Regions from separate parts of the Homo sapiens genome. Here regions 2, 3, 4 and 5 are each reported to be linked to region 1. Evidence: microRNA targets listed by miRTarBase, many of them from high-throughput screens and not tested one by one. Region 1 holds a microRNA gene; each other region holds the end of a gene's coding sequence.

Region 1 (4,141 bases):
CCTGAGCCCCTGGGGCGTGCGCTTGCGTGTGAGTGAAGGCCTCTCTGCTCTCTTCCTGGCCTTCCCCAGCGCCCCTGGCCTCTTGCCCCATTCACACAAGGCCTTTTCCGCCTGGTACCTCAGCTGTGGGGCCTGGCTGGTGTAACTCATGGGGCCCCAGTGGGGGGCAGAGGGGCCACTGGTTTCCTGGCCTGCTGTCTCCACCAGGGTCTGGATCCAGGCACTTCTGCTGACAGCGCCCAGCGCGGGGCCACCATGTGCCCAGCGGCCTCCTGCAGAGAGGCCCCTGGGGAAGCTCCCCACTGGCCCCCTTTCCCCTGCCTAAGGGGAGGCCACAGCCACGGGAAGGGCTCAAGAATGGACTTCAGGGGTCCCTGAGACCCCAGAACTTTCAACTCTGAGTGACGTTCTTGCACTGGGAAGGGCCACTGTTCCTGCAGGTCCGGACTCTATTTTGGAGACTCCGCCAGCTCTAGCAGGAGGGAGGCTCACCCTTGCTTCTGCCCTCAGGACAGATGTGGGGACACTTTGCACCCCAAGTCCTCCTAGCCATGCCCGGCACCTCCCACCAAGTCTTGTCCACACAGGGAGCGTCAGGCCACCCTGCCTGTCACACCCCAGTTGCCTTCCTGTCTTTTCATCTTTTTGCTCTGTCCATCCACTCATCCATTGGTCCGTCCAGCAATAACCTGAGACCTGCTCCGTCCTAAGTGTATGAGAGAGTTCTGCCCTTTGGGGTTTAGTCTGGTGGGGGAGACAGGTGTTAAGACAGTGAGCCCGCAACTCCCCGCTGCGCTAATGCCATGAAGGCAGGGCCAGCCGCAGCAAGAGGAATCACAGTGGGGGCAACTGGTTCCACGCAGGAGTTGAGGGTGCCATGTTTCCAGCATGACCCCCAAGCAGCCACCATGAGTCAGAAGCAACCCAAGACCGTCAGACACTGCGCACTTGCTTCGAGGACTCTAGCAAGCAGAGCTGGGCTCTATGAAGAGTAAATACAAGAGCAAACATCCACCACTCTTTCTACACAAGTTTATTAGGCACCTGCTGGGTATCACGTGTGGAGACAAGCTGGACAACGTAACAATCCGCAAGGCAGCTACGGCCTTGCCCTGGAGCTCCCAGTCTAGCAGGGGTGGAAAACAGGTAAGCCCCCCAGCGGAAGCCCCAGACCTGGCATGCTGTGAGGTCGGGGAAGGAGCGGGGGCTTTCCCGAGGAGGCGTCAGTGAGGGTGGAGAGAGCCTCCGGAAGGGGAGCGGGCACCGGCGAGGATGGCACCGCATCCTGCAGGTGCTCGTGGCTGAGGGTGGGAGGTAGGTAAAACTCCCGGCAGTGGGGACCCACGGGAGACTGTGGCAGAGGCGCGGCACGGCGAGTTCACCATTCCCCAGTGCCCGGCCGCCCCAGGGGACTCAGCAGCTGACATGACAGGGGCCCCTCTTGTATCGACTGTCCTGTCTCCACTCCTGGCACACAGCTGCGGGTGCAGCGCTCTTCAGAGCCCTTCAGGAGAGCCTCCACCCAACCCTCTGAATTAGGCACAACAGGATTGAGGGGGGGCCCTCTGGAAGGGTCCTTTCTCCTCACCTCCCACATGAGGCTGGGCCTGATTTCACAATTTCACTCAGGATCTTCCCTCCTCAATCCTCCCAGCCCTGTCCCATCTCAGTGGCCTGTGGTGGACCCCAGATCCACAGACACAGGCCCTCTCCGCACAAGGGCTCACGTGGTCCCCAGCCAAGGCCCCTACAGCACTTTCTACGGAGCCCTCTTCCCAAACATGCACATCCAGCTTGCCTCTCAGCCACCCCGCCTCCATCTCAGCTCCAAGGAGGCCTTGGCAGCAGGCTCGGGGCGCCATGGAACGGTTCACTGCGTCTCTGCCCTGGCCTCACGTGCTGCCGGCTGGCCTTGCCATTCATCTTCTGAAGGCTATTCTCTGATGGCTCTGCTGGCCACCTTGATCTGAGTGGCAGGTCTGTGCTAACAGTGTTTTGTGTGGGGCCCTGGGAGAAGAGTCCATGAACCACTGCCTAACTCAAGTGCTGCCACGGTGAAGCACCCCTGCCTAGTTCTGAACAGACGCAGCACATCAAAGGGGAGCCGGCAGCTCACTCCTGAGCAAAGCAGCAGGCTAGTTCCTCACAGTCAAGGAAAACCACTGGGAGAACCTCCCTGCTTCTGCTGAAGACCTGAGCTGCTTCTCCCGGGTCCCCCAGTGCTGACAGGCCTCTAGCATCAGGTCCATGTGGCTGATTCTGGAGATCTTTAGGAGGATGGGACTGGCTGTTGAGAACTGTCAGTATGAGTCTGTCTGGCTACTCTGCCTGGGAACATTCACTGAGACATAAAGAAGATATTAAATAGCTGGAAAATTAGGAACCCAGCTAGGGCTGGAGGGGAGGTCTTAGAGGATCATTCTGTAAGTGCTGCCGGGGAAGGAACAACGGTGAGGGCTCAGGCTGGCTCTCTCTAGGGTCCTCCACAGGAGGAAGAAGACCACAAATCTAACCAGCCTAGCAGCCCCAGATACACAGAGCACATGTGGACAAAGCTGTGGCTGCCTGCATTCCATGGGATCATCTTGTATGCAGCAGTAAGAAGGGTCTGTTCTATGACTGCTCTGCTGCCTTTTTTTTTTTTTTAACAGCAGCTGGTTTGGAGTCTCCCACGTATTGCCTGAGGTGGTTTGGTGGTAACCAGCTAACAAAAATCCTTTCATTTTAGGTGCCTGTGGGTGGTGTGGTCGCCACCAAGAATGAGTCAAGCCATTTCTAAAGAATCCACAGTAGGCTCTGTCTGACAGGGTGCATCTGGGAGGGCCTGCCGGGCCTTTATTCAACACTAGATACGCCCCATCTCCAATTCTAATGGACATGTGCAGAAAATGTGATACAGAAACCTGCAGAGCAGCCAGTTCCCAGCGGACGTCAGAGATCAGCTCTTACCTCAAGGATCTTGCTCACCAAACTCTCTTTGCTTATCAAACCTTTCTTTCAGAGGGCAAAGGTTAACTCCCATCTAGAAGAGGTTGAAGTACTATGGTTTTCAAACCAGGAACGTGGCACTAATGAGGCGGAGCTCTGGAGAGGCACAGCTGCAGAAGGTTCCAGGGACCCTTGGAAGCAGACAGGGACCCTTGGGAGCAGACAGGTTTGGAATAAAAACAAAGAGAAAAACAGGGCAAAGGATTAACAACAGAAATGAAACCAGGCGCACACACACTCACCTGCGGCATGATCGCCTGCGGTCACACTCCAACTTGATATCTTGCTTCCAACGGCCAGAACGGCCATCAGTGGAACTTACTTTCACGGGCAATCTTTAGGCTGTTGTTTATTGTTGATTTAAGAGAGAAGCAGTTATGGTTTTGAAAACATGGCCCTTTTTCTGATGGGGGGAGAGCAGGTTTCAATGAAATGGGTGTGGAGTCCCAATCTCCAAGGCCTTTGTGTCTGATCTGAGAGAAGCCATCTGCCAGAGTCAAATTCTTCAGGGCCCTCAAGAACAGAGGGCAAGAAGCCAGGCTTAGATAAGCCTTTTCTGAAGCCCTCTGGCTGGCCAGAGAAAGGAGGCAGGGCTATGGTGCTCCACTGATCCTGTAGGGCCGGGGCAAGGAATGGGAACCCAAGCAGAAACCAGGCAACCAACCAGGATTGTTTCCATCATGAAACAATAGAGCAGGCAAACCCATCTACCTCTGGTCCCAACCTTTGTCACGGACAAAAAACCCAGACCCACACAGGTGACCACGACCTCAGTGTGAGGTAGAACAGCTGGGACCCGGACTCAGGTCCAACAGGTGCCCAGGGCAAAGGGGTCCTCGCACCCCGCCCCAGGTGACCCTCCCAGAAAAGGGGTGCTGAATGCTCATCCGTACTGCCTCTGCGGCCGTGCCATCTAGTGGGGAGGGGCTTGGGCACTCTGTGCCCCACCAGAGCCCCCAGGTTCTCAATCTCCAGAGTTCAGACGCCCGCTCCAGTGGGGGCACCAGGAATGGCAAAGAGATGCCTTCACGGTGTTGATGGTGTGCGCCAGCCACCCATGCACATGACCTGGTGTTTCTGTCGTGGAACTGGAGATGCGGCCTTAGGTGCTGACCGCTGAGCCACACAGGTGGGGCTCACTTTCTCACCTATC
Region 2 (4,141 bases), not on the chromosome of region 1:
AAAAGCAAAAAATATATATGTATATAGTAGAAATAAATCAGCCATAGTAATTTACAGCTTTTGTCTCCAACCCTCCCCTAATCATAATCTTTATCCCACACTTCAGTATATACTTTCTGGGATCAAAGGATCAATTTATTCTGAACCAGGCTGAGAAATATCCATTAAATTGCATTCTGTGTAGCACCCACAGAGTGCCAGTTGGAAATCCCTGAAGGAAGACGGTGTGGGTTGTTACTGTTCTGGGTAAAAAGTGAGACAGTCAAATGACATGTAAATGAATATAAATGGGCAACCTGAAAACCTGAAAGGATGAGGGAATAAGTGTTTTACTATCTCACCACTCTTCTGGGCATCCCCTGCCCTGCAAGTTTTGGTCATCTAAAAAATTTAAAAAACTCATTCAAAAAAATGAAAAAAACTTAGGAAAAAAATTTCAGAATCAATATGCATGTCAGTTAAATTAATTTCTGTTAGCCAAAAGTTCAGGGAAACGGGGTTTTTCTGTAATAAGCTCCTGACTCAAGGAATGTAGGCTCCAAACTTCCTGTGGAAGAGACTGAGTGGCTCACTACTGCTGGGAGACAAAAGAAGCTGCTTCTGTTTTGAGGCCAAACAAGATACTGGATCTGGAGCTTCCTTGGTGTGAAGAGAACAGGGCAAGTGGAAATAATTAGATATAAATTCACTCATGGTAATGCTAATGAATAGGGTTGAGGGTAAACCAGCAGCTTTTCATTCGAGAAAGAAATACCATCAAATTACCTTCTAAAAGCTTATATCCTCAGCATCATTACATTATTTTATATCTGGTAATTTCATACTGGAGAAGATTCCATTCCTTGAAATGCACTAGCAAAATACTGTACATTCCAGTGAGTTATCCTGCCCCTTTCCTCCAAAAGATGCCAAAGTACATGATTACAGACATAAAATAACAGGTTCTGAGTTCTGCCTTTCAGTGAGAATAAAGGGTATGATAGTGGCTGTGCATGGATGACTTGTATCTCAGCGTTAATAGAATTTGATCTGGGGAAAGTTCCTTGCCATAGTTCCTGAGTTGAAAACATAATTACATCTGTGGAGAAAGGACCAAATGGAGTGAACTATTGTTTAGAGTATTAAGTTACTATAGTTCAGATTAAACAACACACTTACCCAAAACTTAATTTGGATGGATTTTATATAAAATATATAATAGAATCATACCATCATCTATTTGTAGCCAAAGTAAAAAGATTTATGAGAAGAATAAGGACTCTGCTATAGATCTGGATGTTGGTTTCACTTTCAAACACAAAAATAGTTTCTTTTTAAAAAAGTACAGTAGAATATCCTCCATTCATAATTGTAATTAATTTAGCATAAGCAAAGAAATGACCTTAGGAACATACCCAGGTTTTAAGATAGATTTCTAGGTAATGGGCCTGAAAGGCATTTTGATCTGAATTTATTTTCCAACGATTTCAAATATAATTTGTCATCTGTGTGTAGACATATACGGGCATGAACACACATTCACCCACACATACAAAAACACTTGCTTTCTATCAGATCAGGGTAATTTTTTTATTGCAGGTCTCTTTTAATATTGGCTAGCAGAAAACCTATCCCCAACCTAACAGATTACACACACACACACACACACACACACACACACACACAGAGCTATTTTTCCACACTTCCTCACAGTGAAAAGCTCTCTAACAAGATACCAGAAGGTCGAGAGAGACAATGCTTTTATGGCTGGGCCTTGAGGACAATTCTGGTTGCATTTAAATCTCAGTGCCAAATGCACTAGGTTCCCTGCCGTTATAATTTTTGGATCAGTCTCTTCTGAAATCAGGTCACAGAGAAAACAGGATGATTTCTCCCAATCTCTCCTATAAAACACTGTGGTAAGACAAGATTTCTTTTTGTTCTGGGCTATCATTCCCATGATCATGTGCTTCCCTTTCCCTTAGGAACCACCCAAGAACATACAAGGAAAAGTTAAGGGAAAACATCATAAGAACCACTGTCTTGCCACTAGCACATGCTTTGGAGGAGTTCTGCAGAATGGAAACCTGAAACAGATTCACTGGCTGATGCTCCTTATTGACAATGGAAAAGAACCTAGTGGGGATGTTCAAAAGAAGTGTATTTCCTTTCAGAATATAAACTCAGAAGCCCACACATCAAAACTTAGAGCTACCTTGGAAGACAGCAGTACCAAAGTCCAAATACTCCACTAACTCCTGAACCTGACTACGAGTCATTTCCTCTTCTGAGCACATGATTTTCCTAGTGAAAGCCCCCTACCTATTATTTGAAAATTTGACAGTTTATACAAACTGAGCCAAGATTATTATCTTCAAAGGGACTCTTGTACAATTCCACTGAAAGACTTCTAATTCTTGATGCTCAGAGCAGCTAATGAAGGGAGATGCCTTTGACTCTCCAGCGCCAAGAAGGTGCCTGCGTCAGTAGTATTTTGAACACTCCCTCCACAGTTACTTCAAGCATCAGCCTGGGCTTCAAGGATTTTTCCATTCTGCTGCTGGAACTAAGGTCCTGAAAAAATTGACAGAAGTGCCTCATCCAGGCAGTAACAAAAACAAAACATGAAGTGATCAGATGAGAGAAGATGAGACGGCAACAGTTGAGTTAGGGAAGGAGTGCAAGAAGCTGATCCCAAACAAAAAGACAAAATTAAGAAAGGAAAAACATTATGTATGTATATATGAACTAAAAGCAGAGCATATGAACGCTTAAGCTGGTGGGAAGCCAAGACAACATCTACAGAAAAGCTTGATGTGTCACAACAAGGCTCAGCCATAGGGAAATAAGGCAATATAAAAAAAATGACCAAGGTATTTTGGTCACAGAATGGTCTTCCTCCTCCCAGCCAACCCCTGTGAATGCATCTCTATATATCTTTATATATATATATATATATATAATAATATAGAATCTGTTTTTTGTTAAAAAGTATTTCAATGATCATATATATTTATCAAGGCATGATGGCTTTAGGAAAGGGGGGGGAATCCATCATGGAAGAGCTGAGAAGAGAAATGCAGGAAGGGTAGGCTGGGGTAAGAAGTGTAAGAAGAAACTGGGGTCAAACAAATGCTCATCAAAGCGTGGCACCAACAGAATTTTCACTAATGTTTCCCACCTTCAAAGAGGCACTGATGATACAGATGGGTGCCGGGACCCCATCTCCTCTCTTGTATCCCTCTCCTGATTCTTCTCAACACCATGCATTTTAATGCTTCATGGCTCTCTCTTCCATGTCTCTTGGACCCATGCTACCTTGCATCCCGGGGTTAAGGGGTATGGCCCATATGTCTCTGGCCCCGGGTGCCTGATCTCAGAAGCCATTGCCACTGATATTAATGGACTGCAGATCTGCCACCTGCATGACGTTGATGCCACTGTTGGCAAGACGGGCAATGCCCTCTGGACAGATGGCCTCCATGGCTACCATATTGGTGGTAATAAGGGCTGAAGGAGTGGCAGTGCCACTGCCTTCTGAACCTGCCCCACTGTCCAGGGGCAAAGTGCCCACACTCAGAGCTACACCTGGGCCTCCCTTCTTATTCTGGTGGGTCTTGATATGTTTTGACAGGTGGTCACTCCTCATGAAGCGCTTAGGACACTCAGGGCAGGCAAATTTCTTCTCACCTAGGTAAAGGAAGAAAAGATAAGAAGCTGACATGTTAGGAAGTGAGGTTACCTTACCCAATTCAGTGCTTACTCTACTAAGCTGAGTAAGGCCAGTATGAGAAGGTGATCAAAAACAAGAAAAATCTTCAAGTGGCTGGGCGTGGTGGCTCACGCTTGTAATCCCAGCACTTTGGGAGGCCAAGGCGGGCAGATCACGAGGTCAGGAGATCAAGACCACGGTGAAACCCTGTCTCTACTAAAAATACAAAAAATTAGCCGGGCGTGGTGGCGGGCGCCTGTAGTCCCAGCTACTCGGAGAGGCTGAGGCAGGAGAATGGCGTGGACCCGGGAGGCGGAGCTTGCAGTGAGCCGAGATCGCGCCACTGCACTCCAGCCTGGGCGACAGAGACTCTGTCTCAAAAAAAAAACAAAAAACAAAAAACTTCAAGTATATTTTCCTTTTGGCGGGGGCGTGAGGAAGAAAACTAGA
Region 3 (4,000 bases), not on the chromosome of region 1:
CCTTTCGAGGGGCTGGTGCCACCCCTGCTGAGCCGTGCCACCGTCTGGAAGCTCCGGGCCCTGCTGGACCCCTTCCTGCGCCTCAAAGTGGACGGCTTCCTGCCCTTCTAGGCCAGAGGCCCAGCGGCCCCAGCAAGGAGGCCAGGCGACCAGCACTGCCCCGGATGCCCAGTGGCCGTGCCAGCCCCCTGCACATGGCACCACTGTGCACCATCCTTGCCAGAAGCTGCAGAGAAGGGTGGAGGTGGGGTCTGTCCTGAGGGCTGGGCCTGTGGCTGGACATAGAATCATGACATAAGTGGCCGGTGAGCACGTCTCTGTGGAAATTGGGGGAGGGATGCCCAGGCGATCCTGCAGCGAGGGTCCCTCAGGGTGGAGACCCCAGCTCAGGGCCGGCTTCCCACCCCACATCCTACCTGCCCTCCAGAAGGCAGCCCCTCTGCACGGGGCTCTGACCCCCCAAGGCGTCTTAGGAGGGTCTCCACTGAAAGGCAACAGCAGTAAGGACTGGGGGGTCCTCAGGTCTTGCCCCCTGGGCCAGGCCCTCCCAGGGACCTCAGAGGTCAGGTTTTCAGCGCTGAACCTGCTGATCCACTGACCTCATGCCCCTCATGCAACTCCCCTCCCTTCCTGGCCACCACCCTCCCTGCCCAGGTCCTGTCACCTCCCCAACCCAGGGCCCTGTCCGGTCCAGGGGACCACATTGGTAGACAGAGCTGATCAACACCAAAAATTTTATTTGGGGAATTAATTAGCAGGGGTACCCTTAAGAACAATAGAGAATGGTTTTGTGGCTTTCTCGTCCCCAAATGGGAGATGTAGAGCCACAGCCCAGGGTGGACCCAGGGACAGGGACCCTGTGACGGAGAAGGGCTGGCCGGAGTGCCACCCTGCCGCAGGCCGTACCACTGCTGGAGGACACAGGGCTTGGGCCTCAGGCCCTCTGAGATCCCGCCGGCATCGTCTCTGGGTGCAGGCAGCCCCAGTGGGGCCCAGGCGGAGCTGGCCAAGACCACAGGACCTTGGTGGCAGGCAGAGGCCAATGGCTCACCAGGCTGGTGGCTCCAGGAAGTTAAGGCATCTGTTCATGTGTCAGGGGAAGGGCAGGAGGAGTGCAGAGACCTTCAGGGGCAACCTGAGACCCCCCCCCCACCCAGCCCAACCCACGGAGGCCTGGGCTCCCCGAGGAGGAAGTGGCTTAGTCTAAAGTGCTTGGTTGGGTAGGGAGGCTGGGCAAAGGTCGTGCCGGTCCCCACAGCTCTGGGACTGCCCCCCTGTGGGGTGCTGGACCCCCTGCAGCAGGTGGGGGACTCCCTGAGGTCATGTGGACACAGGGTCTCAGGCCCTGGCAGGCTGGGAATCTGTCAAGCTGTGGCTGGTGGAGCAGAGAGCCCAGCCCACCCCCAGCCCTGCCCCAGGGTCCACTGCAGTCTGACCTCCTGGGTCCCCAGCTGGGCTGTCCTGGGCCCCAGAGCCGCCTACTTGTCATCCTGCTAGGGCCCCGAGAGGCTGGGGAAAAGACTGGAGGCAGCCAAGTGCAGGCGGCACATGGCCCCGCGTGGGGGTGCCCCGGCGGCCTGGCTCCAGGGGGCCCGCAGTGGTGGGCGGTCCTCCGGGCGGCCAAGGTGGCACAGGTGCAGCCCAGGAGGCACCCAAGGCTGGCCACGCCGCCCCCATCCACGGGTGCAGGTGCCAATCCGCCCCCTGCGGGCCGCGGCGTCCGTGAGAGAGAAGCAGAAAGGTGGAGGTCAGCTTCGGGGCCCTACAGCCCGCACGCCTCCCACGCTGGGACAGCCCCAGCCCAGAATGTCTCAGCCCTGAACAGCTGTGCATCCCTCACACTCCCTCAGCCCTGCCCCTGGCATGTGGCAGGCAGGAGAGTTCCAGCAGGTTCAGCGGCCCCCACAGGGCCCTGAGCCAACAGGTGGCCCCTATGCACCCCCATTTCATCTCCCCAAGCTCTCGGGTTCCTGAGAGTCCCCTGTGGGTAGCGGCAGACCCAAGTCTTTCCCCCAAACACCCTGTCACTGCCAGAACTGACACAGACCCAAGGCGAGAGACCCTCACACTTCCCAGCCACAGACCATCGGCCGCCCCCTCTTCCCAAGCCTCTGACTCAGCCCAAGTCGGCAGAAATGCCCCTGAGGAACCCACCGACCCCTGCACACCAGACAGCAGCCACTCCCTCTTCTGGGGCCCGGCCCCTGCCCTCCCCTAACTCGGGATCCTGCAGCAATAGCCCTGGCCTTGCCCAAGGAAAGAATCAAAATAACTCTTTTTCTTTTTTTTAATAAAATTATAGATATATAGATGTAGATATAAAAACATAAAACAGACACAACGCAAGCAGACGCTGTCATGTGCTTACTCTCAGGTCCCTGACACCAAGGGAAGCACTGACCCCTCCCCAGTGTGCTTTCCCACGGCGCGAGCACCGCAGCCAGGCCGGGGCTGCGGACGTGGCATGCCTTGGGGTGGGGTTCTCCAGTTTGGCAGGGAGGGCCTGAGGGCTGGGGAGGGGGCTCTGGGTGTCACCAGCCCCCTGTGGCAGCATCACCCCCGTGCCTGCTCCCGCCTGCCCCCCCGTCGCCTCCCACAAGAGCATAAAGCAAAGGTTAAGGCTTTGATGAAAGGGACAGCGGCGGCCGGAGCACTGACACATCAGACACGGCGCGGCAGCACAGCACACAGACACGGGACACATGGAGCCGGGCCCCCGGCCACAGCTGGCTGGCTGGCCGTCTGTCCACCTATCCACCACCACCCAGAGCAGGCCAGGGCAGAAGCATCAGCCTTGCCAAGCTACAAGCTTCCAGCGGGGTCCGTGAAAGGCAACGCGTTAGTTAGGAGTAGCCTGGCGGGGGACACTCGGTCCGGGAGCCCACAGGCTGTGTCAGAAGGACGGTGGGGGCCCTGGGTGCCTCTGTCCATCTCTGGGACCTGTCCGTAAGGGGACCATTGGGGGCTGGCCTGGCGGTGATCTGGGGTGCTGGGTGATGGCAGTGGGCCAAGCCTGGCTGAGAGAGGGTGCCCCAAAGAGGCTGACTGGGCCCCCTCACTGCCCCAGCCATGGGACAGGCCCAGACACAGACCAGCCCAGTGGCCCTTGTCCCAGTGAGCCGACTTCCCCATGGGCAGATGAGTGGACGGGCAGGCAGAGCGCTTGGGGCAAGCTGTGGAGGCGTGGCACTCTCTCCCGCCGATGGGTCCACACCAGGCTGGGGTGGCCTCGGGTCCCTGGGGCAGAGAAGTTGGTGGGGAGGGGGGGTGCGCTGTGGGGTCCTGGTCCCCGTGGCACCATGGCGGATGTGTGGCAGTCAGTCCTCACACCGAGATCTCGTAGGTGGTCCCACCCACGCCGGACACCTTCTTAACCAGCGTGTGCCGTGTAGGGCTGGCAGAGGGCCCTGGGGGGCCGGTGGCAGGTCCCAGCCGGGCCAGGCCCGGGGACTGCCCATTAAGCTTACTTGGGGGAGTCTTCAGCTGAGGGTGGTCCCTGCATCAAAACAAGCACATACACACATGCACACGGTGAACACACGAACACGGGGACAGAGGACGGAGGAGGCAGCAAGACAGAGACGACGCGGACGTGGACTAGTGCAGCCGAGTTGTGGGGCCCCGTGCAGTCCCTGCCCTCTGGGCTTGGAGGGTTCACCTGGAAAGCAGGTGAGGGATGCAGAGCCTGCCTGGGGAGCAGCTGTGCTGTCACAGGACAGACAGATGTTGTCAGAACTGCCACCACCCTCCCGAGTCCCTGGGTCCCTCCTAGCCAGCACTGGCCACAGAGAGCATGGGGCAGCCAGGTGGGCACTGAATGGAGCCCCTGCCGTGCCCTGCACTGGGAGCCCAGCCACTCTGCCTGGCCTCATTCCTGCTCTCTCTCAGGAAAACGAGGGGCTGCCCTCCTGCCCACCAGCGCTGACCAACAGCAGCTGTATCTTTGCTACTTAAACCTTCTTGAGGCGAGAGCCCTTTGTCCCCGGGCTGCGATCCCTGC
Region 4 (4,141 bases), not on the chromosome of region 1:
AGACCCTTCTGGTGAGGTTGGGAGGCCTGTGACTCTCTTAGGGGCCTTTTCCTAAGTGCCCCCCTGCAGCAGCCCAGCACTGGGCACGTCCAGCCCCTGTGTCTTCCCCAAGAACCACCCTGCAGATGCCCTTTGGCTCTCCAGGGTCCTCCCTCCCCCCAAGCCTCTCCCCGTCCCTCCCTTACACGCCTGTCTTGTGTTCCCTCAGTGAAAAGCCAGAGTGTCGGATATCAGCGATATGCTCCCCCAGGGACTCCATGTACCAGTCTGTGTGTTTGATATCAGAGGAGAGGAATGAATGTGTCATTGCCACGGAGGTGAGTGCTGGGCTCGCCTTTCCTTCTGCCTTTTGTGGGAGGGAAAGTGGCCTGGTCACTCTTGACCCATGGGCCATTCCTGAAGGGTAGGTCAGAACCCTGCCTTGGCAGGCCAAGTTCAGTGGACTCTTGGGTCCCTGCTGGCCTCATTGCCACTAAGGGTGTGAAACAGGAACCATGGCGGCAAGCCTGGTCTGGTCCTTTCCTGCTGTATTGGTGCTGGGTTGGGCAGCCACGGCACTGCTGGCCAGCCTCTGATGGGTGAGGGGGCCCCTCACCCCTTGTGCCCTTCCTGCCCCTTCCCACTGGCTTCCTCCATTGACCTCATGAGCGCAAGCTCCCAGGCCCGTGTGTGTGTTGGGCCGAAGACTGGGGAGGACTGCCCCACCTGCCCTTAGCCCCTGCCTGCCCCATCGCCTTCTCCCAGGGAGGCCCAGGGAGGGCCTGGAGGGAGTGCGCATGCCCAGGGTAACCTGTTTCCCTGCCTTCCGCTTGCTCCCAGGTATAAGGCAGGAGCCTACCTGGACATCCCTGCTCAGCCCCGCGGCTGGACCTTCCTTCTGCATTGTTTACATTGCATCCTGGATGGGACGTTTTTCATATGCAACGTGCTGCTCTCAGGAGGAGGAGGGAATGGCAGGAACCGGACAGACTGTGAACTTGCCAAGAGATGCAATACCCTTCCACACCTTTGGGTGTCTGTCTGGCATCAGATTGGCAGCTGCACCAACCAGAGGAACAGAAGAGAAGAGAGATGCCACTGGGCACTGCCCTGCCAGTAGTGGCCTTCAGGGGGCTCCTTCCGGGGCTCCGGCCTGTTTTCCAGAGAGAGTGGCAGTAGCCCCATGGGGCCCGGAGCTGCTGTGGCCTCCACTGGCATCCGTGTTTCCAAAAGTGCCTTTGGCCCAGGCTCCACGGCGACAGTTGGGCCCAAATCAGAAAGGAGAGAGGGGGCCAATGAGGGCAGGGCCTCCTGTGGGCTGGAAAACCACTGGGTGCGTCTCTTGCTGGGGTTTGCCCTGGAGGTGAGGTGAGTGCTCGAGGGAGGGGAGTGCTTTCTGCCCCATGCCTCCAACTACTGTATGCAGGCCTGGCTCTCTGGTCTAGGCCCTTTGGGCAAGAATGTCCGTCTACCCGGCTTCCACCACCCTCTGGCCCTGGGCTTCTGTAAGCAGACAGGCAGAGGGCCTGCCCCTCCCACCAGCCAAGGGTGCCAGGCCTAACTGGGGCACTCAGGGCAGTGTGTTGGAAATTCCACTGAGGGGGAAATCAGGTGCTGCGGCCGCCTGGGCCCTTTCCTCCCTCAAGCCCATCTCCACAACCTCGAGCCTGGGCTCTGGTCCACTACTGCCCCAGACCACCCTCAAAGCTGGTCTTCAGAAATCAATAATATGAGTTTTTATTTTGTTTTTTTTTTTTTTTTTGTAGTTTATTTTGGAGTCTAGTATTTCAATAATTTAAGAATCAGAAGCACTGACCTTTCTACATTTTATAACATTATTTTGTATATAATGTGTATTTATAATATGAAACAGATGTGTACAGGAGTTTATTACTTATTGGGTCCTGTCTTTGTGATGGTACCCCTGCCCTCTCACCCAAAAAACTCTAAACTCCCTTCTACTGCTGCCATGTGCCCCGCCGGAACCCCTGGGACCCGTGCAGACACTTGGATTTGGCATGTCGTACCCCAGGCCCTTGTCTTCTTCCATTCGTTGAGGAGCCGAGCCTCACCCATCTAGTCCCCAGCCTCAGCCAGCCTTCCTTGCCTGCTGACTTTGAGTTGGTACAGTGCCCCCTTCCCTCTTTATGCCCTCACCATTCCTGGGGCATGTTCCTCCTGACCTGAATCACTTCTTCCTTCCTCTCTTCAAGCCTGAAAAAGCTTATGGGGCTCCCTAGTTCTGCCTGTTTTTCTCATATTCAAAAGGATTCTCTTGGCCGGGAGCGGTGGCTCACGCCTATAATCCCAGCACTTTGGGAGGTCAAGGCGGGCAGATCACGAGGTCAAGAGATCGAGACCATCCTGGCTAATAGGGTGAAACCCCGTCTCTACTAAAAATACAAAAAATTAGCCCAGTGTGGTGGCGGGTGCCTGTAGTCCCAGCTACTCGGGAGGCTGAGGCAGGAGAATGGCATGAACCCAGGAGGTGGAGCTTGCAGTGAGCCAAGATAGCGCAACTGCACTCCAGCCTGGGCGACAGAGCGAGACTCCATCTCAAAAAAAAAAAAAAAAAAAAAAGCATTCTCTCGTCGGTGGATGGGATAGGGCCTCTGCACCCTGGTGACATCTGAGTCCTTCCTCCTGCTGTTGCAGGGTGCCTGGCTCTTTTCTTAGCCCCAGCAGGGTACAGGTCTCAGGAGACAGGGCAGGAGGGAGGTTTGCCTTGTTTTTCCTCTTTGTAGCAGACAAGAGCGCTGAGAGTCTGAGCACCTTGTCTGCCCAGGGCTGCTAGAATTTATTGAAGACTGCAAAGACAGGGAGAAAGGGGAGGAGGAGGTAGCCTTCCCTGAGTCCAGGTTTCTCTTGCTGAGGCACTAATGAGGGGGTTTCCAGTCTCACTAGGAGTTTCATGCCTAGCTTCCTCTAAGGCACAGGATAGTCCCTAGGGTGCCACAGCCCTCTCTATAGCCGAAAATATGCTCCTCCATGGAGAGCAAATTATGAAAAAATGAGCCACTGACAAAAAGCTGAGCAGATGCTCCCAGCTCTCAGCCTGTCCACAGTAAAGCAAAATAGACCCATTAGATGCCCTGCTCCTAATGGAGTCCAAGGGTTTGGAGTGCTACTTGCCCTCCCTTTTTTCCTCTCTCCTTGACACAGACACACCATGCCCACCCCAGACCTGGGTGCTTATGCCAGAGACACAGGAGCACGCACACGCTCCACGCCTCACTCATCGCTCCCTGTTCCCTTCACTGTACACACAGGGTATCAAACAGGAAAGCATTCAGGGAACCGTTCCCACAGCCTGAGCCGGCAGCAGGGGGAAGAACAACACGACCTCACTCTTCCTGCCCAAAATGAAACAGGAAAGCAGCTCCCAGGCCCTAGGGGTGTACGGGAGGGGGGAACTGGGCTGGGACACGAAGGCAAGATGACGAGGCTCCCATGTGGGGGACAGGTAGGACACCCGCAGCCCTGCACGTCCACAACACCAGGCTGTGACGGGCTGCACAGGCTGCCAGACTCGCAGAGAAGAGCCCCGGAGAGGAGTTGGCTGGCAAAGCTCACAGCTGCTCTGATGCACTAGATGGGGAGCTGGAGAGCCCACCAAAAAAGCTGGCTTTCTGGGGAAAGTGGGGACCCGTGGGGAACTTGGTCTGGGCAGCTCCGACCTGCAGCTCATGCCAGGCTCCACCTTTAACAACATCCCACAAGCTGGGCAGGCACTTGGGGTGTAAACAGGCCACAGCGGAGGAAGCCCCTTCTCCCCAGGATTTCCTGAGAGTCCAGCCCCTTCTGATAGGTAAGGCACCCAAGACCCTCATGATCACTTGAGTGTCCTGGGGTACAGGAGATTTCCTAGGCTTGGCAGAAAGGAGGCCAGATAATGGTTCTAGACTCACTGTGAGGTGCCTTCCACAGGTTAGCAAATGCCCACCTTTAATTTGCATGGGTATTTCACCAGGGAATTCGGAGTTTAGTAGTTCCTTAACAGCCTGGAGCCAGTGCCCTGCCTGGAGAATCAATTTGACCCCACGGTGACCTGAGGACAGCTGCTTTTCCAGGGCCCCTCGGCTGGTAGAGTCAGGGAGGGGTTGTGCAGAAGGAGAAATGACTTTATCCTGCTTGCTCAGCCAGGGTTCCTCTCCTGCCTCAG
Region 5 (4,141 bases), not on the chromosome of region 1:
ACCTGGCGGGTTCCACCATCTACTTCCACTGTGACAACGGCTACAGCCTGGCCGGGGCAGAGACCAGCACCTGCCAGGCTGACGGCACCTGGTCCTCACCCACCCCGAAGTGCCAGCCAGGTGAGGACACTCTGCTCATACACCTGCCTGCACCTGTCCCCACTCACCACCCCAGAGAGCCCCCTCACTGACACTCGCTCCCTCACCAGGACGCAGCTACGCGGTGCTGTTGGGCATCATCTTTGGGGGCCTCGCGGTGGTGGCGGCGGTTGCGCTCGTCTATGTGCTGCTGCGCCGCAGGAAGGGCAACACGTGAGACCCCCCAGCCCCTCTCCCAAGACCCCGAGACAGCCGGTGGGACCACCGAGGCTACTTCTAACTGCGTTTCTGTTGCAGGCACGTCTGGGGTGCACAGCCCTGATGGGAGCAGCTTGGCTGTGAGCACCAGGCCAAGACTCCTGAGAACAGGCAGCCCAGTCCTGCGACTCCCGCATCCCCAGGACCAGACACCTGGGACCTGGATACTTGATACCTGGGCATTTAACCCCCTACTCTGTCATCTCAGACCCCAGGCAGGAGGCCCAGTGTTCCAACACCCAAGCCCCGTGCTAGCAGCGCTCCGTGCTCTTCCCCAAATACTCACGGCTCTAATTCCCCAAACCTGAAACTTCATACCCTGGGATTCTAATACCTATGTCCTGAGCCCTGACACTCCCACACCTGAGCCTCAGATTCCAATAGCTCACTCCCTAGAGCCTGACGCCGGGGCCCCTGACCCCTGAGCCTCAGATTCCAATACCTCACTCCCCAGAGCCTGATGCCGGGGCCCCTGACCCCTGATCTACGGAGGCCTGCTCCCGGACCGTGCGGGCACCAGTGCAGTGCTGCCTTGGTTCCTGGACCCCTGGGCCCATCCTGGGACCCCAGATGGGGTAAGGAGAGGCCCCAGAACCCCAAAGCAGACAGCGAGACCCCCAGCGGCAGAGGCCTCCCTCGGCACTCCAGGCTTATAATTTCGAACTCTTCTGGAAGGTCACTCAGGAACACCCTCCCTGCCTGTGCAAAGAGAAAACAAGCGCCTTGTTTCCTTCCCTGGTCTCCTGGTGTTCATGCTGCGCCCTGGTTCTGGAGAGTTCCATGACCGCCTCCCGGGGTCACCACCAACAGTATCCAGAGTGAGGCAGGTCTGAGCCCTGCCTGCTTCCTCCACGAGGTTGCCGGGGATGCTCCCTCCCCAGGCTCTCTCTCCATGTATGCAGTGGGATGGAGAACTGTGGCCGCCTCGTGGGGTGGGGAGGCCGCCAACACAGCACAGGGCTCACTTGGGTCACTCAGGAGATGGAGAAGGACAACCCCTCCCTCAACAGAGGTGCCACCCCCTCACCACGCCCTGGCGTGCTCTGGCAAGCACTGCCCTGCAGCCTCGGCTCCTTGGCTGGGTGCAGTCGCTGGCAGGATCAGTTCCAAGTCCTCAGGAGACCAGCGCCCAGGCTCCTTAGCCCAGGAATGTCCAGAATCTGGGCACAGAGCCCAGGCCTCAGGCCACGGTGGCCCACCTGAGCAGCTCTTTGTCGGCGCTTCCTGTGGGGCCTGGCATGGAGGCACAGACCTGGAAGCAGCTGGAGGATGACCAGGGTCCATCAACCTTTGTGGAGAGGGTCCCGAATGGGGACTCAGGCAGGGTAGCATTGGTCGGGTTTGCCCCTTAGGTCTCAGAGAAAGTGCTGGAGAGGGTGAGGCTGGAAGTTGGGGGCCAGGTAGAGAACACTGGGTGGGGAGTTGAGCCGCCTCAGTGTGACCTGCAGCGCTGGGAGTGGCCATATAGGGGCAGCAGAGGATAGGAACAGCGAGTCTGGGTGGCAGGAGGTTGGGAGGGCAGTCAGCCCTGCCCTGCAGCTGGGTCAGCCGACTTGGTCACAACCGCAGCCAAGGTCTGCGCACAGCCCACCCCTCCGCCTCCCCGCACCTGGGTCATCCCCGCATCTCAGGAGTGTTGAAGAGGTTGCACAGGTCTCCCCAGGTCATTCAGCGGGCACTGACCATGGGGTGGGAGTCCAGGCCTCTCACCTGCTCAGCCTTGCCCTTGGTGAATGGGAGAGCTGGGGAGGCAGAGACATGTCTCATCTGAGGCCTTCCTGGAGGAGGTGAATGTGCATGATGGGGCACGTGTGCGGGAACCGAGCTGAGGGTTGCAGGGCAGGGGTGGCGGGAGGCTAGCGGAGGGGAATGGGGTCTGGCCTTCTCTCTTTCTAGAGCTCACTCCGTTGCTTCCCCATTCCCCTGGGTTTGCACCTCCAGGCATGGTGGGGCTGAGGGTCAGCCCCTTGGCGGGCTGGGCAGGTACTTTCCTCCCTACAGATGAGGTAAGGCAGGGCTCCCCTCCCACTGTCTGAATCCCCAGCGCACCCCTGTGCCACGCCAGGCCTGGGCCGGCCACGTGTCAGTGGGTGAGAGGTCAGTTTCCGGGTCAAGGCCTGGACATGAGGGAGCGGGCACAGGTTTTCAGGGGGCCCAAGAGCGGCAGGGGCAGCTTGGCAGCTCATCAGGTCCACTAGAGGGTGTCCCAGACAAGAGCAGCCCCCGAACTGAGGTCAAGAAACAGGTTGGATTCTCAGAGCTCTGATTGGTTGGACAGGGGTTCCAGATGGACAGGGGTTCTGGGTAGAGGAGCAGTCTATGCAAAGGCTCAGAGAAAGAGAAGTGCAGTCATGTCTGCGGAATGACAGGGGTGGGGGCCAGCCAAGGCCTCCCCTGCCAGGCCAAGGCATTTAGATTTCATCCTAAGAGCAAAGTGTGGCCTGCCTCGGGCTCCCCCACCCCCACCAGTCTCCCTCCAGGATGGGCCCTTGGTCTGCCCCCCCACCTCCCCTTTCCAGCAGGAGAAAGGGTGCCCTGTCTGTGGCCCCAGTCCCAGACATCAGATGTTCCCAGTGCCAGGGGCAGGCCAGGCTGGGAAGCCCCACCACCTGCCAGGGGCTTTTCCTGGGGCCCGAAAGAGATAGAGACAGGGCCTGTGCAAAGGCAGAAGGCCTGGAGCCGGTGCAGACTCTCTAGAGACATCAAAGGCAGGGACCGCTGCCTCAGGGAGATGGTCTCCCAAATAGCAGCCCAGGGCTTGCAGGACGGGCAGCCATGGGAGCTTGCGGGTGGCTTACAGTAGGGTTGAAATGATGGAGTATCAGAGTCACCCAATGGCCGGTACCATCGTGGTGGTACCAGTCAGAGTGGGGCAGATGGTAATCCAGGGCTTTGGAGACACAGGTGATGAGAGAGCTGGGGGGGTCAAACAGGAGCCGATGAGGTACCAGCAGGATCCTAAGACCCACCTTGGGCAGAAGGGCAAAGGGAGGAAGGAATGTGCTATGGGAGCCAGGCCCAGATCCCATGGAAGCGGGCGTCACGCAGGCCTGTGGGCCAAGGGGAGTCACAGAGGTGACAGCCCAGCTGCAGGTCCCCTGCTGGCTAGAGTAGGGAAGCCCGGCTTCTCTGTGCCCCCTGCCCTCCAGCCTCCCACTAGGTCTCCTGTTGGCTGAGCACAGTGGGTGCGGCTGATCTGGGGGCCAGGGAGGGCTCTGACTCGGTACAGTACAGTACAGGCACAGCTGGGGAGCAAGGGACCCCTTCTTCTGCCAAGCTGCTTCCTTCTGCAAGCCCCAGGGTGGCCGAGTGCCTGCTGTGGGCCAGACCTCTGCTAGGCCCATCAGGACACCCCTGTCCTCAGGGTCCAATGCTGCCAAGGAGGAGGCGGGGGGGTCGGTGCAGCGCACTGTAGGAGTGGGAAGTCAAGGAGGCATCGTGGAGGAGTGCGGCTTCCCACAGGCACCCCTTCAGGCTTTCACCAGCTCCCTTTGTTGCAAGGATGTGAGGATGACTGACTTTGGAAGTCATGCCAACCAAGTCCCTGCTGACCTGATCACCCACCCACTACTCTTCCAGGACCAGGAAATAAACTTCTTTTGTGATTAAGCCTTAATATGTTTCAGGGACCATTTGTTGAAGCAGTTAGTTGGTGCTGAGATGGGAAAGAAACTTTTCTTCTGTGAGACAGGGTCTCACTCTGTCACCCAGGCTGGAGTGCAGTGGTGCGATCATAGCTCATTGCCGCCTCAACCTCCCAGGCTGAGGTGATCCTCCTGCCTCA

The links. The annotated mature microRNA hsa-miR-296-5p reads AGGGCCCCCCCUCAAUCCUGU and lies in region 1 at 1,545-1,565, opposite strand. An mRNA with a match to its seed (bases 2 to 7 or 8) in the 3' UTR can be bound and repressed. Matches are read on the target gene's strand: a 7mer-m8 pairs with bases 2 to 8, a 7mer-A1 pairs with bases 2 to 7 and ends in A, and an 8mer does both.
Region 2: the mRNA of SP1 is a reported target of hsa-miR-296-5p. The part of its 3' UTR that is shown has no 7-base or 8-base seed match.
Region 3: the mRNA of ZDHHC8 is a reported target of hsa-miR-296-5p. Seed matches in the 3' UTR shown: 8mer at 3,047-3,054, 7mer-m8 at 2,711-2,717, 7mer-m8 at 1,497-1,503 and 8mer at 1,463-1,470.
Region 4: the mRNA of DLL4 is a reported target of hsa-miR-296-5p. Seed matches in the 3' UTR shown: 7mer-m8 at 1,165-1,171 and 7mer-A1 at 1,244-1,250.
Region 5: miRTarBase lists SUSD2 as a target of hsa-miR-296-5p. Seed matches in the 3' UTR shown: 7mer-m8 at 765-771, 7mer-m8 at 823-829 and 7mer-A1 at 907-913.

The regions. Positions count from the first base shown.
Region 1 is chr20:58,816,117-58,820,257 of GRCh38, forward strand. It overlaps MIR296 (microRNA 296), which reads right to left and starts at 1,578; the gene lies at 1,499-1,578. It overlaps MIR298 (microRNA 298), which reads right to left and starts at 2,197; the gene lies at 2,110-2,197. It also overlaps GNAS-AS1.
Region 2 is chr12:53,410,455-53,414,595 of GRCh38, reverse strand. It overlaps SP1 (Sp1 transcription factor), which reads right to left. Exons shown (of 6, transcript NM_138473.3): 6 at 1-3,669. The coding sequence ends at 3,356. Among named protein-coding and RNA genes, the nearest start is that of AMHR2, 11 kb to the left of the region's middle.
Region 3 is chr22:20,144,725-20,148,724 of GRCh38, reverse strand. It overlaps ZDHHC8 (zDHHC palmitoyltransferase 8), which reads right to left. Exons shown (of 11, transcript NM_013373.4): 11 at 718-3,496. The coding sequence ends at 3,325. CCDC188 (coiled-coil domain containing 188) reads left to right here. Exons shown (of 9, transcript NM_001365892.2): 9 at 1-309. The coding sequence ends at 111. Among named protein-coding and RNA genes, the nearest start is that of CCDC188, 4.3 kb to the left of the region's middle. RefSeq lists silencers at 1,489-1,558, 1,599-1,718.
Region 4 is chr15:40,937,210-40,941,350 of GRCh38, forward strand. DLL4 (delta like canonical Notch ligand 4) reads left to right here. Exons shown (of 11, transcript NM_019074.4): 10 at 209-317; 11 at 820-1,864. The coding sequence ends at 825. Among named protein-coding and RNA genes, the nearest start is that of DLL4, 9.9 kb to the left of the region's middle. RefSeq lists enhancers at 992-1,808, 3,091-3,150.
Region 5 is chr22:24,188,016-24,192,156 of GRCh38, forward strand. SUSD2 (sushi domain containing 2) reads left to right here. Exons shown (of 15, transcript NM_019601.4): 13 at 1-120; 14 at 210-312; 15 at 397-1,091. The coding sequence ends at 421. Among named protein-coding and RNA genes, the nearest start is that of SUSD2, 8.6 kb to the left of the region's middle. RefSeq lists an enhancer at 1,558-2,199.